Regions from separate parts of the Homo sapiens genome. Here region 2 is linked to region 1. The links come from fine-mapping of genetic effects on gene expression. Tissue or cell type: whole blood. Region 1 holds a variant in brackets; the other region holds the start of a gene. All regions are shown on one strand. Distances are from middle to middle.

Evidence for each region. PIP is the estimated chance that this variant, and not a neighbour inherited with it, causes the effect.
Region 2: SLC7A7 starts here. The variant in region 1 is fine-mapped to the expression of SLC7A7 in whole blood (TOPMed, PIP above 0.99). The same link has a PIP of 0.9 or more in tibial nerve.

Annotation. Positions count from the first base shown.
Region 1 is chr14:22,774,832-22,777,591 of GRCh38, forward strand. SLC7A7 (solute carrier family 7 member 7) reads right to left here. Exons shown (of 10, transcript NM_003982.4): 5 at 1,364-1,487; 6 at 1,002-1,105; 7 at 613-709. Among named protein-coding and RNA genes, the nearest start is that of OXA1L, 9.5 kb to the left of the region's middle. The variant T/C (reference allele first, on the strand shown) is at 1,261.
Region 2 is chr14:22,814,070-22,816,685 of GRCh38, forward strand. SLC7A7 (solute carrier family 7 member 7) reads right to left here and starts at 1,366. Exons shown (of 10, transcript NM_003982.4): 1 at 1,251-1,366. RefSeq lists enhancers at 661-1,167, 1,356-1,455.

The sequences.
Region 1 (2,760 bases):
TCCCTGTTCTGAAAATCCAAAATGCTCCAATGAGCATTTCCTTTGAGTGTCAAGTCAGCACTCAAAAAGTTTCAGATTTTTAGAGCATTTCAGATTTTGGATATTCAGATTAGGGATACTCAACCTGTATTAAAACCCATACTGCTTTATCACAGGATTTTCTGATGCTATTTCTCCTACCTAAAGCCCATCTCTACCATTTGCAACCCTAGCCATCAAGATGCACTTTTTTTTTCTGAGAACACTTTGGTGGATTTTAAGACACACACACACACTTCTAGATGTAATTCTTCACCCTCTACTCCCATGGAAGTGATCGTTTCTTCTCTTAAACACCGTATCACTCACTATCTGTCATGGCAATCAATCATTACAGTGTATTCCATGTACTTTTTGCCTTATCTTAGAGCAGAGGTGTACCATTCCTTAGAGCATTTGGATTTCCCCTGTAGCGGTTAGCATAGTGCCTTGCCCGTGGTGAACATTCTGATCCACCAATAGTTTTTCTATTGGAATCTTTCAGAGCTTTCAGGAAGCTAGAACAGTCGCTTCTGCTGTTACTAAAGTTTCCCCCGCAATCTGGCTTTCAGTCTCATCCTTGAGTTCACTTACATTGAAGAGCAGAGAAGGCACTGGTGTGAACCGCTCAACATGGATCATGCAGATGGCATCAGGGAGATGGCCTTCTCTTGAGCCCACAAAGAAAAGCCTATGTTAGGTAAGATAGGAGAAGCTGAGAAAATTGGTGGACACGGTGCAGCCTGGTTCACCTGCCACATGGCCCTCCCTCTCTGCCATCCCTTCCTTCAAAAGTATTTGGATAATATGGACTGGAGCTCAGTATTAAGATTAATGACAACTGCAGGCTTCTGCTAGAAACAAGAAGAAAGAGGTTGTGGTATCGGTTGGAGAACACAAGTAATCAAAGGCTGGGTCCTGTAAGTTCTGTCCACTGCATAGCCCTTTGATGATACACCCCTCACAAAAGTTGCCACTCTTACCTAGAAGCAGCCACAATGGAGGCATTGAGGCCACCAAAACAGGATAATGCAACTGACAGTGGAATTATCCAGTTAAATATTCCAAATATCTGATCTGCAAAAGTCTAAGGGAAAAGAATGGAAGAGTCATTAGCAGGATCTAAAAGGGATGAAAGACATGGATGGGCATGCCCCCAGATTCCCCTTATTAGGTATTCCAACCTTTCTTCCACAGTGGGGTTAACAGGACCTTCTTGCAAGCCCGGTATTCTAAATGAAC[T/C]CCTTTCAAGGCTGTCTACCCCCTTTCCAGGACTTTCAAGAGCCAGAATATACCCAGTACCCCACAAGACACCCTCAACCTTCTGCTAGTGAAAATCCTTTACCACAGCAACAGCATCACTGGCCAAGATGTCTCTCATGTCTAGCACAGTATAATAGGCCACATTGGTCAAGATATAGATGATGGTGACAATGGGCATGGAGATGCCAATGGAGAGGGGCAGGTTCCTACAGCCAAATAGAATAAAATGCACATTAGTCCCACAGTCATATCCCTATCTCTCCTTTAATCCTTAGACTCTCCCTGCCACACCGGTCTTTCCAGGGATGGAGACTGTTGCTACATTTCCTCAATGCATTTGTCTTTGACGGTGCCCTGGATAGTGGCTGAAGCTCTGAACACTTAAGAACTAAAGAACATTAGGGGAAAGGAATATCATATTAGGAGACAGGACTGTGCAGCTGGGAGCAGTGGCTCATGCCTGTAGTACTAACACTTTGGGAGGCTGAGGCAGGGAGATGGCTCGAGTCTAGGAGTTGGAGACCAGCCTGGGCAACATGGCAAAACCCTGTCTCTACAAAAAACTAGCCAAGCAGCTGGGCGTGGTGGCTCACGCCTGTAATCCCAGCACTTTGGGAGGCCGAGCCGGGTGGATCACCTGAGGTCAGGAGTTCAAGACCAGCCTGGCCAACATGGCAAAACCCTGTTCCTACTAAAAATATAAATAATTAGCCAGGCATGGTGGCATGCACCTGTAGTCCCAGCTACTCAGGAGGCTGAGGTACGAGAATCACTTGAACTCGAGAGGCGGAGGTTGTGGTAAGCCAAAATTGTGCCACTGCACTCCAGCATGGGCGACAGAGCGAGACTCTGTCTCCAAAAACAAACCAAAAAAAAAAAAATTAGCCAAGCGTGGTGGTGCATGCCTGTAATCCCAGCTATTTGGGAGGCTGAGGTGGGAGGATCACTTGAGCCTGGGGAGGTCAAGGCTGCAGTGAACCATGACTGGGCCACTGCACTCCAGCCTGGGCAAGGCAGCCAGACCCTGTCTAAAAAAAAAAAAAAAAAAAAAAAAGCAGGGCGGGGGGGATTAACAAAGACTGTCCCCAGCATCATAACGCACAGGAAAATGGGAGGTTGTTTTGTTTTATACCCCAAAGATCTTTTGGTGTCAGGATTCCATCTCTAAGATTATCAACATTGGCAATTTTGCCTCAAGGTTGAGAAATATAAAAAGAAATTATGGAGGCAAATTGTGAAATTTAACATCTTCAGAGAATAAGATAGGCCTTCAGTAGGAAGAGAAGTGTATGTATCTGACTAGCAGCCTGGAAGATATGTCTGCCCACCCCTTCCTCAGTTTGAGAACCTCAGGAGCCATCCTAACTGGTGGGCAAAAGAAAGATGCAAAGAGCTCTCAAGGTCCCTGTAGCCCAATAAAGCCATGATCTTTATAAGCATCCTTAACAGTAAGGCTGCCAAAAAAAAAGCACAAAGTGG
Region 2 (2,616 bases), 39 kb after region 1:
GTGAGCCACCTTGCCCAGCCTCCAACTTGAATTTTTAAGAGAAGGCACTCATTCGCCAGAGAGAAAGGATCTGTCTCTCATCATTAGGACATTGCTGCCCACCCGACTCACCAAATAGAGAACTAAATCTTGGGCCGGGCGCTGTGGCTCACATCTGTAAACCCAGCACTTTGGGAGGCCAAGGCGGGCAGATCACCTAAAGTCGGGAGTTCGAGACCAGCCTGACCAACATTTAGAAACCCAGTCTCTACTAAAAATACAAAAATTAGCCATGCGTGGTGGCACATGCCTGTAATCCCAGCTGCTTGGGAGGCTGAGGCAGGAGAATCACTTGAGCCCGGGAGGCAGAGGTTGCGGTAAGCTAAGACTGGGCCATTGCACTCCAGCCTGGGCAACAAGAGCAAAACTCTGTCTCAAAAAAAAAACAAAATCAAAAACAAAACACTAAATGTTGGTTCTCTCTGAGCCTGCTATAATACAAGACAGGCATGGGGGCAGTGTGGCGGCTCCCAGAAAATAACTATAATGGCTTGACCCCGAGTTTTCAGCCTTATCCAAAACCCGTCTTCCCTCCAATTTCAGCTTCAGGGATCACCTGTGCTGAGGTACAACATTAGGAACTGACCCTACCAGCAGCTAATCTGTGGGAGCGTCTCATGACACTGCTCTTTTCCCCAAGGACTCTACGTCTGCCAAAACTAAAGGCTTCAGAAACCTGCTGGAAACCCACAACCATCCTCCTGCCCAAAGAGCATCCCTTAACCCTTAGCTGGAGTCTTCAGCCCTGGCAAAGCCCAAGTAGACCCACTTCACCCTGAAAGAAGACAGGCTATTATCTTTTCCTTGCTTTTCCTTTCCCATTCTCTGGTATTCTAAGCCTCCTGCTATCGATCCCTCACATCAGCATCGTTGAATCACCCAAAAAAGTATGAATGAGAGAAGGGCGATCCAATGTACCATAAAACCTAGGGATGATTGGAGGCAGCTGATGGCCACTCCCTACCCCAGAGTTGCTGCTGGAGAGATATCACCCCGAGCCAAGGCAGGGAGACAGCTGCAGCCAGGCAGCACATGCTGGAAAACACCGAACAGGAGACAGCTGAGAGGAAAATGGGAGAGGCTAGTCAAGCAATGGAGAGATGTTAGGGTGAGAGGCACTCGGGAGAAGAAGCGATTAGACACTGCACAGCAGCAAAGAGGAGGGTTAGCAAGGTAAGTGGAGATGAGAAGAGGGTGGAACGCACACTCACTCCTTGGTCCTGGATATAAGCAGGTTCTCACGGCAGTGTGAGCAGCAGTCAGGGAGAGAAGTGCCTTCCAGGATCTGTGGTCTGATGCTCCTCCTTCCCAGCCAGCAGTAAAAGGGAAGGCCAGACAAATGCCTATGGATTTAAGCAAGAAGGGTGGAGGAGGTGAGGCAGCCCGCAAAGGAAGGAGTGAGGGAGGGGGAAAGGAGTATTAAGCAACCATCTGGGTCCAAGGTTCACTGGCCCTTCACATCTGCAAAAGGGGCAGCTAGGAGCTCTTGGCTCAGCACTTTCTGTGATAAGAAGGTGCTCTCTCAGGAATCTCCTTTGTCAGCTCTGCTCTGGGACCAGGGGCCCAGAAGAAAGGACAGTCAGCTGAGTGCAGTATCTGTAGCCCTGGGGAAGCTGTCCCAGAGCAAGTTAGCTGAGGACAGGACAGTAGCGGGGAAGGAATACACAGCACTCTCTCTCTCTGTGTCCTCCATGCCCCACCCTAGCCTCTCTTCTCTCTCACCCCAAGCATTTAAGAAAGGGAGGAAGGTTGCACAGTGTGACACAAAGGCTTGTTCCCATGCTGAGATTACAGGAAGTGTAAGAGCAGTCTCTACACCATGTGACTGGGTGTTCTAAGAGAACTCTGCACACTTCCCCATGCAAAGAGAGACTGGGGGGTTGCCTCCAAGCCTGGGCCACTGCCCCAAAGTCTGAGCCTCAGACTACTTCAAAAGAAACACAGTCAAGAGATCAAATATCTGACTGCATCCCCACCAGACCCACGTGCCTTTTCATTCTTGACAAAACATACCAAGATCTCTGGGATAAGCATAAATTCCTATAAACGCCTTCCTCAAATATAAGTTGACTCCACTTTCCTAAAAAATATGAGGAAATCAGGCCAGACGCGGTGGCTCACGCCTGTAATCCCAGCACTTTGGGAGGCTGAGGCAGGCGGATCACAAGGTCAGGAGATCAAGACCATCCTGGCTAACACGGTGAAACCCCGTCTCTACTAAAAACACAAAAAAATAAAAATTAGCCGGGCGTGGTGGCGGGCACCTGTAGTCCCAGCTATTCGGGAGGCTGAGGCAGGAGAATGAGGAGAATGGCATGAACCCGGGAGGCGGAGCTTGCAGTGAACCCACATTAGGCCACTGCACTCCAGCCTGGGCAACACAGCAAGACTCCATCTCAAAAAAAAAAAATTAAAAAAGAATATGAGGAAATCAGATTTCACTGAATTCTGTTGGACAGACAGGCCCAGAACAGGCAGAGGAAGCTGAGCACTTTTTGGAAATCACATAGTTTATGCTATCTTTATTATTTACTTTAAATCTGGTATTCTGAGTCTCTTTTACCAACAGAAATAGAC